Regions from separate parts of the Homo sapiens genome. Here region 2 is linked to region 1. The links come from fine-mapping of genetic effects on gene expression. Tissue or cell type: fibroblasts. Region 1 holds a variant in brackets; the other region holds the start of a gene. All regions are shown on one strand. Distances are from middle to middle.

Region 1 (6,744 bases):
CTTTTACGATTGTTCCTTCCCCATCCCTTCTGTTCTCTATTTCTGGGATTACTTTCGTCTATTTGCTGGAGCTATAAATACCCAGTCTTATACCTTTATCTTTACATCTTGCATCGGTTCTTTTCTCTTACATTGTGGGAAATGTGACTGTGTTCATCTTATTATTCTGCGATGCTGTTTCTGCAGAACCCAATCTGTTCTCTCTCCCCACTGAATGTTTTCCCTAACTTTTCTTCTTCTTTTTTTTTTTTTTGGTCTTCTTCTGTCTCCCATACTGGAGTGCAGTGGTGTGATCTTGGCTCACTGCAACCTCTGCCTCCTGGGTTCAAGCAATTCTTCTGCCTCAGCCTCCTGAGTAGCTGGGATTACAGGGGCGTGCCACCACATCCAACTAATTTTTGTATTTTTAGTAGAGATGGGGTTTCACCATATTGGCCAGGCTGATCTCAAACCCCTGACCTCAGGTGATCCACCCGCCTCAGCCTCCTAAAGTGTTGGGATAGCAGGTGTGAGCCACCTCGCCCGGCCTGTTTTCCCTAACTTTGCTCATCTCTGCATTTTAAAATTCGACCATGTATTTTGCATCTAAATCTTTCTTGTTGTCAGATTCTTTTCTCTGCATATTTACATATATATTTTTCTATTATGTATTATCATCAAAAAGAGAAATTGGAGATTTAGGGAAGATATTTTCCTATTTTAAAAAAAATAAATCTGTTTTATTGGGGGGAGGGGGGGATTGTGCTTTTATCTATCAGATTGGTTCCTGCTTAGGGAAGCAGCATGTATGAGGGTGAACGGCACAGGCTCTGTGGCCAGACTAACTCCCTGGTCTCAAGACCAATCCCACCATGTGGAGCTGTGTGGCCTTGGGCAAGTGACTTAACTGCTCTGAGTCTCAGCTACCACATCTGTAAAATGGGGACCACCATAGCACCTGCCTCACAGGGCTGTCATTGTAAATAGATGAGTTTAATATTCATGTAGACTTTAAAACAATCCTGACTCTTGCATCACCACGTCAGTATTTGATACATGAAATGGTGGCATCTGTCCATTTTTCTCTTTGCTCATCTTCATTTTGTCCAGTACTGAGGGTTCATATGGGATCTCTCTGGCATAAAACGGGAAGGGAAGCTCATGTTTTGTGTGTGTGTGTGTTTTTAGGTTGCTTCTTGGAGGTCTGGTGGGCCAAGAGCAGGAGTAGGAACGCAGAGCCTTGTGGCAGAGAAGTGTCCTCAGCAGGATGGGCAGTTGCTTTTCTGATAGCTGTGGTGGCTCATGGTGAGGCGAATGGGACATCCTGCCTCAGCAGGGCCCCCGCGTTACCCAGCTCATGCCTGCACAAGGGGCAGGCTCCAGGGAGCCTCGTGGCCTTCACCATGAGAGCAGGCCCTGGGCTGTTCTGAAGACTTCGATCTGCTCCATGCCACCCTCACTCCAGCCTCCACCGTGCCTCCTTGGGAGAAGGAAGCCGTGGGTAAAGAATCCTGGACAGGTGGACACATTATTAGTCTCTAGCAACACCTGAAGAAGTTTCCTTTCTTTCTGGCTTATTGATGACACCTTTTCATTTTTATCTGGCATATATGCAGAGTTTGTTTTTTTCTTTTAAGAACTTTAAAAAATATATCTTAAAATTCAACAAGAATTTGGGAGGAAGCAGAGTTTACTCTCTGGATTCAATGACTAGGTTGAAATGGAGTCTGTCATAGTCTCCTAACTGGTCCTCCTGGTTCCAGTCTCCCTGACCCCTCTGTCTGTCCTCCTACAGTTGGAAGGAACTTCTCCGTCAAGTCTGACATTGGGCCCCTTCTTTAGCAGCATCTACCACGTGGCAACCCAACACCCCTCAAGGACACCCACACTGCGCTCTGATCTGCTGCAGCTCCCATCTTGCCATTTCTGTCTTGGCCCCTTCTCTCCAGGCACATGGCGTCATCGCTGTGCCTCTTTGTGCATTTTTGACTTCTCATATGCTCTCCCCTCTGTCGGAAATCCTTCCAGCCATCCTCTCAGGCCTGCCAAACTCCTACCCTGCCAAGGCCCCAGGCCAGGGAAGTAGTCTAGCCCGGGTCTTCCCATCCTGCAACAGCTCCTTCCTGAGTGACACTTAGTGTCTTGCAGTTGTTTAGTTACAAGCCTGTTCCCTCCATGGACTGTTAGTTCTTCGGTAGCAGGAACTATGCCCTTTTTACTTTTGGGCTCTTAGTACCTGGCATAGGACTTAATACCTAGTGGATGTTTTCTGAATACTTTATTGGCCCCTAGAGTCTCCAGTGTGAGCCATGCTGTCTTGGTTGCACCATCTGGCTTTCACTATTCCTGGAAGTAGGGATGAGATGATCTACTCCCTCTGACACTGGGTCCTGGCCACTGGGCCACTCTCCCTGGTTAGTTCCCCCACTATTCTCTCTCTGGATCTAACGGAGCACCCCTCCCATAGACGTTGGATAATGACCTGAGACCACAGGGATGCCCAATCACCAGAAGCCATTCCCCACAGAGAGTTTGGGAGAAGGGGGACTCATTTACAATTCTCGTGAAGGGCATCAGATGCACTGCTTTTCCGCAGCCCTCATGTCTGCATTTAACCCTCACCCTCACGATCTCTGAGGACACTGTCACCTGTCCATTTATGGAGCCCAAGCAAAATCAGAAAAGGAGAAGAATATTAGAGTATGATGTTGCCCTTCATTTTAAATGCAATTCATTGTTGCTTGTGTGTGGGGACAATCGCCCATCTCCCTGTGGAGGACCAAACAGAGGGTCATCACCCAGTGTGGGACATGCAAATGGTCAGAGCTAGTTAATTGACCTGGTTATGAGTTCAGGAATGAAAGTTTGGGCTTAAGGTGCTGGTGCACAGGTGTGTGTGAAAAGGTGAAGTCAGGGAAAAGAGAAGGCAGGCTGCATAGAAGCCAAGAGGTGGGAGCACCCATATGTCCTAGGGATGAATAGATGGACAAAATGTGGTAGATATTAATAGATACAATAGAATACCATTCAGCCTTAAAAATGACATTATGACATAAGCTACAATGTGGAAGAACCTTGAAGACATTATGTTAAGTGACATACATGAATCACAAAAGGGCAAATACTACATGATTACATCACATGAGGTACCTAGAGTAGTTAAATTCACAGAATGGTGGTTGCGAGGGCATGGGGAAAGAG[G/A]GAATGAGGAGCTGTTGTTTAACAGGTACTGAGTTTCAGTTTTACAAGAGAAAAAGTTCTGGAGATTGGCTGTGTGACAGTGGAAATCTACTTAACACTACTGAATGGTATACTTAAACTGGTTAGGGTGGCAAATTTTATGTTACCTTTTTTTAAATAGAAGATAAAACAATCAAGTAGGCTGATTTAGAGAGTGGGGCATGGCATATGACCAAGGAGTAAATATTTGAGATCTAGAAGGAACTTGGGGAATTATGCTGGGTCTTAAGTTTGTCTAAGGATGTGAGAAACTATCATTATTGGAGTAATGGCAACTTCTTAGAGTAGCATGGTGCTGTAATGTTTACAAATGATTTTACTTCTAAGATCTAATTGTAAAATGTACTTACCTCTCTCCACAAAGCATTCAACTCGGCTTACAAATATACCTATAAAATATAAAATGTATAATAAATAAATTTGTGTAAATACAAAATAAAACAGAGCTAAGGAAAAATGGAAATTCAAATAGAAGGATTTTTCTATAGAGGGATTTTCTATTAGAACACATGTGTATTACTTGGAAAATAAGCTCAACTGCATATAACAGACACCCCAAACAACAGAGATGTAAAACAAAGATGCAGAATGACAGAGACTTATTTTGCTCTCCAAAAAGTCTAGGCCATTATGGTGGCTCTGGTCACAAGGCCATTATGCTAACAAGTCTCTTGTCAACACATTCTGTTGATGCTGTCCTGGGACTCTCTTTAACCAGTAAAATCAGGTGACGTTTCTAGACCTAGCCCTTAAGAGGCCTGGCAGCTTTCTCTGTCACTATTCTGGGATCCAGCTCCATATAAATAAGCTCAGACAAGATGATTGAATGATGAGAGACTGCCGAGAGAGAGAGAGAGAGACAGAGAGAGAGAGAGAGAGAGAAAGAGGAGGGCCAGAGAGCTCCGACCTATTCTAGCCACTGCAGCTAAGGCACCAGATTTAGCTACTAGCTAAGTGTAACTGCATGAGTGTCTGCTGTCCATACCACATTCTGCAGAACAGCCTAGCTGAGCCCAGCCAGCCCACTGAACCGTGAGAAATTCTAAATTCTTGTTTTAAGCCACTAAGTTTTAGAGTGGGCTGTCACACAGCAATAGACAGTTGTTAAAGGGAGAACAAATAGTGGGGGACAATTAACACTCTCAGCCATAACATTTCATGAGCTCTTCTGCACTGAATAGCTGCCTGGGGTAGATAGTGCCTATGAGAAGTCACACACTTCAAGCTGATAGTTTACCATGACCCTGAGTCAGCTGCAGGTATGAAGCAGCCATCCTCACACAAAGTCCCCAGTACATCTTTCAGCAAACATGCATTTGAGGACTAGGAATGAGTCTCTGGATGTGTGATGCGAACAGGTGTCTAGTGAGCAGATTCCGACTTGCCTTGATGACTTGCCACTAAAATACTTGCAGACTAAACCAGAGAGATCGAGAACCCAGCACTAACTACCCATTGAGAAAATAAGTCTGAAGGTCAACCTATTTCTAAAATTCTAGAAGGAATCCCAATATTAATAAGTATAATTGGAAGGGGAAAATAAACTTGTTAAAAAAAAAATCCTGGCTGGGCCCGGTGGCTCATGCCTGTAATCTCAGCACTTTGAGAGGCTGAGGTGGGTGGATCACGAGGTCAGGAGATCAAGACTATTCTGGCTAACATGGTGAAACCCCCTTCTCTACTAAAATACAAAAAATTAGATGGATGTGGTGGTGTGCACCTGTAGTCCCAGCTACTCCGGAGGCTGAGGCAGGAGAATCACTTGAACCCGGGAGGCGGAGATTGCAGTGAGCCGAGATCACGCTACTGCACTCCAGCCTGGCGACAGAGCGAGACTCCACCAAAAAGCAAACAAACAAACAAACAACAACAACAACAAAACCCTTAAGCTGCTGGGGACACCTAGAAGGTGTCTAGGGCAGTGGGAAGAGTCTTTGCTGAGGTTGAGAGTTCTTTTATTTAAGTCAAGATCTTGTGGGCTATGTTAGGTTTTGCAAAGCCTGGATGAGCCTGCCCTGTGACAGCAGAAATGAGGAGGACTTTGGAGCTTGTGGGAAAGTCTTTGGGGAGACATGGATTTGAAAAACAGAGGGAAGTGGTGATGTCAAGACAGAGAAAGAGCAAAGTAGACACGGCTCAAATTCTGAATGAGAAATGCCCTGTCAGGAGTCACTGAAGAATCTTAGAGCAAGGATATAATATTCTGTTTGAGTTGTTTACTTTTGCAGGAAGCAATCTTCCCTCCCACACGCCAAGCCTGCAGGGAAAGCCTGCTGAATACAGACTAGGTTCAGGTCGACTATACACTAGGGAGGAGAAGCAGGAGGGGGTGACCTCTCACTGAGACCAGAGCGGCTTGGAGGCAAGAGGAGCTCTGTAGCAGGTAAGAGGCAAATGTCAGGTCAGTTCATAAAGGAGCGGCAGATCCAGTCAAAAAAGTCTCAACCAGCCAAAAAAGAAATAGGCAAGAAAGTGGAGACTTCTGGGTGACCTGAGGCAGATGCAGCTGGACTGAAGAAACGCCCATCCAGGGTTTCCTTCCAGTAAACTGAGAGCTCCGAAAGAGGTGAGCACTTTCCACCTCTCCCTGTCTCTGTGTCATGTGACCAGAGCCTCTGCCCAACCAGCCATACCCTCTGGCAGGCTTTCCTTTGTCCACAGGTGCTGTCAGGGAGGTGGTCTGGGTCCTAGCCTAATTTTTGCCATAATTCTACATCCAGTATCTTCAGAGCACTGAAGGAGGTGCAGGAAGTGCAGAAAATGCAGAAAACAAAGGAAATGCAGTGGGGAGGGGCCTGGCTTCTGCACATTGCATTCACTGCTGTCTCCCCAAGGAAAGCTGTGAGAGCTGGACTGGAGATTGGACGCATCTGGAAGGAAAAGGATTCTTCAGCACAAGGGGGAATAACTCTCAAAACCGACAGGAATGTATGATGGCTCTCTCCTTAAAGCCAGAAACAAAAGAAAGATGACTGTTATCAATACTCTGTTCTTGAAAGTTCTCTATCAATCAGCTAAGAAAGTGAAAGAAGTGTGATCGTGAAGAAGTAGGAAAAAGTACCAAGACTTGCTGACAGGTAATTTAATTGCCTACCTAGAAAATTGAGAGAAGTAGAAAAACTAGAAGAGTTAATATAAAGTGGCTGGTTACAAAGTAAACATTCAAAAATCCATAGTTGTTCTAGGAATAACTAGATAGAAAATGTAATAGACTCTATCAACAGATAGCAATGCAATTTAGAAAATACATAGGAGCAAATTTAACATGAAATTGGCTGGGTATTTTTAACAGTGGTATGTTTTTTTACAGAGGGACATAAAAATCCACTTGAATAATTAAAGAGATATACATAGGCAATGGAACAGTTATTGCCAAGATAATCAATTCTCCCAAAACTAATTTACAAATTGAATGTGATTTTAATGAAAACACAAGATTATTTTTTGAACTTGCGAAATAGACCCTAAGTTCATCTGAAAGAATAAGTGCCCAAAGAGAGCCAAGAAATTTTTGAGGAAACAGAA
Region 2 (6,744 bases), 700 kb after region 1:
GCGCATTCTCCTTCGTATGCGGACCTAAAATAGTTGTGTTCACATAAGTGGAGATTAGAATTGTGGTTACTAGAGGCTGGGAAGTGGAGGGGAGATAGGGAGAGAGGATGGTGAATGGATACAAAATTACATTAGATAGGAAGAATAAATTCTAGTGCTCTATAGCATTGTAGGATGACTATAGTTAACAATAATTTATTGCATATTTTCAAACAGCTAGGAGAGAATTTTAAATGTTCCCAACACAAAGAAATGATTAATGTTTAGGAGACAGATATGCTAATTACCCTGAATTGACCATTACATTTTATACATGTGTAGAAATACAACTCTGTACCCCATAAATATGTATAATTATTATATGTTAAAATTGAAGTGTAAAAATAGTACCCTAGATGTACATAATTATCCAGTTCTACCCTTAGTCTGGGTAACCTAACCTGTTATGATCAGTGTGTTTATGCTGAAAACAATCCAGTCTTTACCCTGAGGCAGAGCGGGGGGCCAGGGACAAGTCAGGCAGTCCCCTGACTCCAGTCCTAGCCCTGCCTCCAGGCCAGTCTTGCATTTTCAACTGGCTTTAGAGCTCCTTCATTACTGTTTGTCTAAGTCAGTAGCTACAAAGCTGAGCTCCCCTTTCTGCAAATCCTCTTCTTCCTCCCATGGTTCTTGATATTAATAATAAGTGACATCTACTAAGTAGCTACTAAGTCCCAGGCACTCTACATATATTATCTCCAACCTTCAGAACAATCCTACCCGGTTCCATTTAATATACAAGGAAGATGATGTTCAGAGAGGATAAATGATTTACTTAATTTACTCACATGCTAGAAGTGCAAACCACATTTCTGGCTCCAAATCCCTCCAACTGCCTCTTCCCATTATACCTGGCTATCATAATGTAAAATGTAATAACCACCTTTGGTTTTTCTACACCAATTGGGACTCAGAATTAGTTGTAACACAATGGAAGGAATTCTCACCTCTCCACACCTCTGAGGCACAGCCTCTCACTGAAGCACTGTTTCTCACACTGCTGGGGAAGGAGTGAGGGTATGGATTTAGAGATGGTCACAAGAGGAGAAGAACTGCTTCCTACAAAAAAAGCACCCACAGAGATGGATACGCTCTCCCACATAAAAAACACTGCTACTGGGGAAGAGTCCTCATGTCTGTAGAGCGTCTACAAACATTAACTCATTTAATCCGCATGGCACCCTGCAAAGTAGGGCGTTATCTGGCTTTACAGATACGTAAAACTAGGATGAAGTAGCTAGTGAGGGGTAAAGCTGAGTTCAAAATCTGTCTTTTTTTTTTTTTTTGAGACAGAGTCTCACCCTGTCGCCCAGGCTGGAGTGCAGTGGCATGATCTTGGCTCACTGCAACCTCCACCTCCCTGGTTCAAGCGATTCTTGTGCCTCAGCCTCCCAAGTAGCTGGGATTACAGGTGCCCGCCACCATGCCCAACTAATTTTTTTATTTTTAGTAGAGATGGAGTTTCACCATGTTGGCCAGGCTGGTCTTGAACTCCTGACCTCAGGTGATGCACCCGCCTTTGCCTCCCAAAGTGTTGGGATTACAGGCGTGAGCCACTGCGCCCAGCCAACCTGTCTTTTTACTACATTATGTGGCCCTGCTATTCACAAAATCAATCAATTGCCCAGGCATGGTGGCTCACGCCCGTAATCCCAACACTTTGGGAAGCCAAGGTGGGAGGACTGCAAAGGCCAAGAGTTCAAAACCAGCCCAGCCAACATAAGGAGACCCTGTCTCTATAAAAAATAATTTAAAAAACAAAATCAACCATCAAGTCCTGTTAAAAGTATAAAAATCTCACATTTCTCCCTTCTACTCTGCTCCTGCAGTTTCTAGCTTAATCCACGTCTTCCTCACTATCCTTCATTTGCACTTCTGTCACCAACATGTGTGGCAGTACAGGTAAAACAGTTCAAAGAACTGGCTCTAAAAGTCGCGAAAGAATTTGAAACTCAGCTAGCTTGCTGTGCGATGTGGAGCAAGTTATTTAACCTCTTTGTGTCTCAATGTCATCATCTAGAAAATAGGGATAAGTACCTCCCTCATGGATGGGGTAAAAGGATTAAATGAGATAATGTGTTTTTCTTGGCCTTCAAAGTCTCTCCCCACTCATCCATCCTGTTATCTACTGTTCCCAGTGCAATCTTTGTTCATCTCTTCAGCACCCTCTTCGTCTAGCTCAGGGTCTGAGTAGGTCAAGGGGAGGATTTCTCATGAGGTGATGTTCTCACTCTGGCAGATCAAAAGGCTTTATTTGCTGGAGTCCAAAAAGAGACAAGGAGATTGCAAGGGAGACGGTGAATGGGGACGTTCTCTCTACACTCAAATCTATCCCAATCTTTCCATCAGCTGTTGATGACCACATGAAAACACAAGCCTGCATTCTTCTAGTCAGATGCATCAGGTGGTATTTTAAACTCTTGTCTGAAAGTCTTTCCCTTCTCCCGTAACACACACAGAGATAATCACAAAATAACAAAACATCAGTGTTGGAAGGAATCTTAGGACCCATCCTAACCTCCTCATGTTGCAGATAAAGAAACCGAGGCCTAGAAACTAGACATAACCTGCCCAAGGTTCCACAGCTATGCAAGTCAACCAGGACGATACAATCACCTTAGGAAGGGGAAAAGGCAGCAATGTGGTTTTGGCCAGTAATCTTTACCTTAAAGCGTATTACACACTCCCTGTAACTGCACACTCCGGTGCGTCCAAGTGACAAACCAGAAAACTTACTCTCCTTTGAACAAAAAGCGTGAGTTTCACGATACAGAGCCATTAGCCATTGATACTTCTCCCCTCAGTAAAATAAATCCACCCACAAAAAGCACAAAATTCCCAGCAGGGACATATACCAAAATAGGAAGTCTAAAATTATACTGATTTAGAAGACAGCTGAGATAACCATTAAGGAAGACCATCTTCACTGCAACCCACTCTCCCACCCACTCACCGCAAAACAGAAGGAAATGCTCTTTAGTAGATTGGGAAAGGTCACTCTCCCTGTTTGCAGGGCTCACTGACCACAAGAATCAACGCAAAGACAACCAGGGCACTGAAGGGTGAAGGGAGAGCAAAGCTGAACAGTGAGGGGCAGATCCGTGATTGAAGTGGTTTGAGAAATGGCAGGAGGAACAGGGCACTGGAATGACAGAGGGCTGGAGCGAGGGTCAGCAGGGCGCGCGGGTCAGAGGAGGAATGGAGGGTCAACAGTGGCTTCAGTGGGTCAGTAAGGATTCAAGGCATGAGTAGAGGAGGTTAGGGGGTCAGAAAGGTCCCAAGACAGAACAGGTAAGGGGTCATAGGGAACAGGGTCCCGCACAGAGAAGAGCCGGGAGGGTGTGCGCGCGCCGCGGACCTCCCATTGCTCCAGAAGACGCGCCATGTCTGCATCATTGTAATCGCGAATATCCTTCTTCTTCTTCCGGGGAGGTGGGGTAGACTCGTCGGGCGTCCCGGGCGAGCCTTCGGCCGCGCAGGACCCAGGCGGTGGTAGCAGTAGCAGCAGCAGCAGCAGGTCAGAGGCACAAAGCAGGACCACGGCCTTGCGCGCCCACCTGGAAGCCGCCATTTTCGCTGCGCCGCGCAGCGCCCTAGACGCGCTTACCCGACCTGCGCGGGCCGGACCCCGCCTTGCACACGCCTTCCTGTCCGCCTTTCCGAGGCCCCGCCTCCCGGCCCTCGCTAGCCTACCGGGCCCCGCCCCGTACCATTTCCTAACCCCCGCCTCTGGAAGCCCCGCCCCTCCGCCATTTTGGCCCCGCCCCACTGGCTCCTCCTCTTGGTCCGGCTGAGGCGCTCTGTCCCGGCTGGGTGGGTCCCTGAGTGCTCATTTTTCGTTTTCCGTCAGAGGCCGACCTTTTTCTCTGGAACGCACAAGCCAGGTCCAAAAGTTCCTTCAGGGCCTCCAGGAACCACTAACCAACGTCCCTGTTGACCTCAGTTTCTCGCCTGTGAAATAAATTGGAACTGGAAGTTCTGGAGGCTGCCTCGGCTCTAAAAAAGCCCATTTCTGGATGTCGGACGTTTATCCTCAGTCTCTTGCAATTTCCTTTGAGAACAGCCAGTTAAAAAGAAGTGAGTGGCAGGTAGGGCAACTTTTTTCAGAAAGTCATAAATAGTTCGAGTCCACTGCTTTCCTCATCAATAAAGAGGATTCAGTTCAACCAGCTTTCAATATTTGTTTTTTTTTTCCAAAAAGATCATTACTATTCATCCAAAAAAAAAAAAGCTTGCCTTTCTTTGATTTCAACCTAATACTGTAGGCTCTAACTAATCCTTTTCAAGGCTGAATCACGCTACTTTTTGTTTCTTAAAAAGATTTTGGCCAAAGATGCTTTGAGATTCTTCTTGTTTTAAACGGCTCATCAGCTGATGTCTTTAAAATGTTTAATTACATAAGACCTTAAAAAACAAAAAACAAAAAAAACCAAAGGCCGCACGGTGGCTTAAGCCTTTATAATCCCAGCACTTTGGGAGGCTGAGGTAGGACGATAATTTGAGTTTAGGAGTTTGAGACCAGACTGGGCAATAAAGCAAGACCCGCATCTCAAAAACAACAACAAAAAACGCTTCATTCTTTATACTGCTGCACAGTTTTATTTGGTATTGTTAAATTAATAGTTTATTTTCCTATTGATGGGCATTTATTACCAATTTTTCTGCTATTACAACAAAAAAGAGCTGTAGTAAACCTTATTCAAGCCTTGTTTGGATAGGATTAGTAGGCTGCATATAAAAGAAAACTGACTTTTTAAGGTGGTTTAAACAAGATAAAAGGTTTTATTGTGATTGACTTTTCTTTCACAGAAGCAGTGTAAACTCGAAACTAGGGCTGGTATAGTGGCTTCTCAGCCATCTGGTACTCAGCCTCTTCCTCATCCTTCTATCATATTAGCCTGTGGCTTCCACCCTCAAGGTCAGAAATTCCAGGATGGCTCCTGGAGCTCCAGTCATCAAGATGACATTCAACCAGAGGAAGGGAGAAGGCAGGCCAAACCAAGCACACCTTTCAAGTGGAGTCAACTTCTTTTAAGCAGCCTACTTGAACATTGCATACATTTCTGTTTACATCTCATTGGCTGGAACCTAGCTCTCCAAGGGAGGCTGAGAAATTGTCTTCTAGCTGTATACATTGTCATCTCAAATGAAATTAGGATTGTTATAAAGGGAAAAGAATAAAGTGGAGGTTGAGTAGGCAACTACGCCTGCTTTCCTTCACTCTTAGGACCAGTGCAATTTAAATTCTCTCACACCGTAGGAGTGGCTGATATTCTACATATTCATGCATGCATCTGTATGTAAACACGCTAAGCTATGACCTTTCCTATTGACGTTGAGCAGAAACAACTCATAAGAAAAAGATTTTTTCTTTTGTGAAATCATAGGGGAAATGTCATGAGCTTTCTCCCCAGAGCACATTGCTCCACCCAGTGGCTTGGAGCCCTATCCTAGTGCAGTCATACTAAAAAACATGCACAGCTGTGGCTGATCATGTGCTCTACTGGGAGGGGTCACCCTGGTAATTCATATTGCCAGCTTCAAAGTTAAGGGGCAAACGTGTTGGGATTCTTGGCCCACATATCTAGTTATAGAGAATAAGATCATTGAAAGTTTTACAGAAATTGTTGGGAATGTGTAGAAAGTTTCAGGGCTACTGACTTTCCTCTAAGGAGGAAATCAATTCGGCATATAATCCACTGATATGAAAACATCTGGATCAATTGCATTTTCAACATTTGGATATTTGAAACTTACTTTAGTGTTTGGAACTTGATTCCATTCAACTTGGGGGGAATTTTATTTACCAAAGACCTATTGTTAACCAAGAATCAGGTGAGGCACTGATGCAAAAATGAATATAACAATATCCTTACTCTGGCAGAGCAGATAAACAATATGCAGTAAATTTCATGCAGATTACAGGAGATCCGGGCCCAAAGGGATGATGTGATGATGATGATAATCTCTCCAATTTAAATAAGAGGAAATCCTGGTTTTACAATTACACAATTTGTCTGAGGCTGCACAGCTAGTGCAGCGGCAAGGCAAGAATCTAAGCCGAGGTGTACTGGATAACAAGGTCCAGTCTTCTTGGAGTCCTTCTTCCGCCACAGCACCATCTAGGTTAATCAGTGAGGCACTCAGGATGGTTAAATTGGGAGCCAAATGGAAAATGCATTGAAAAGTCTGGAGCGAGGAGCACTCAGATGGGACAAGAGTCTGTGCCAGGTACCAGGTGGTGCAGTGTAGACTGGAGAGGACAGATGTGAAAGATTGTGTGCTCATGGCCTAAGTGAAGCCACAAGTCTCTTCAGTGCTCTGGGGTTAATACTAACCCCACCTCTAAGTGATTCAGTGACTGTGGATGGTAAAGTTGAATCTCAGATCTAATTAGTGTCTTAACCTGAGCTCATCCTGGCATGCATCATTCCACAACAGAGGAGGGTGAAGCAAGACTTTCTAGTACTATTTGGAAGCAGGCGGGGGTAATATTCAAAATGTTGAAAAACTGGAGTAGCACAATTACCAGTTAATCAGAACTGAGGCAGATGAGCTGATGGGTACAGTCACCATTGTGCCAAACATTAACCCTCTAATGACTGACTCATGGGAAGGCATAGGAGGAGAGGCCTGGGGATGGGCTGAGAGAGGTAATGAGTATTTACCATTTTGCACTTTTGTTGCTTTTTAATCCAATGTAAG

Alleles and levels. Positions count from the first base shown, and alleles are read on the strand shown. Sizes are in standard deviations (SD) of each study's normalised expression.
In carriers of allele A in region 1, the expression in fibroblasts of the gene that starts at base 3,638 in region 2 tends to be higher than with G alone (moderate effect, 0.46 SD a copy in GTEx).

Evidence for each region. PIP is the estimated chance that this variant, and not a neighbour inherited with it, causes the effect.
Region 2: it holds the start of MESD, and the variant in region 1 is fine-mapped to the expression of MESD in fibroblasts (GTEx, PIP 0.93).

What each region holds. Positions count from the first base shown.
Region 1 is chr15:80,284,246-80,290,989 of GRCh38, forward strand. LINC00927 (long intergenic non-protein coding RNA 927) reads right to left here. Exons shown (of 3, transcript NR_033833.1): 2 at 3,570-3,608. Among named protein-coding and RNA genes, the nearest start is that of CTXND1, 35 kb to the left of the region's middle. The variant G/A (reference allele first, on the strand shown) is at 3,181.
Region 2 is chr15:80,986,182-80,992,925 of GRCh38, forward strand. It overlaps MESD (mesoderm development LRP chaperone), which reads right to left and starts at 3,638. Exons shown (of 3, transcript NM_015154.3): 1 at 3,398-3,638. The coding sequence starts at 3,610. RefSeq lists enhancers at 2,719-3,333, 3,322-3,601, 3,334-3,947, 3,587-3,881 and a silencer at 3,632-3,911.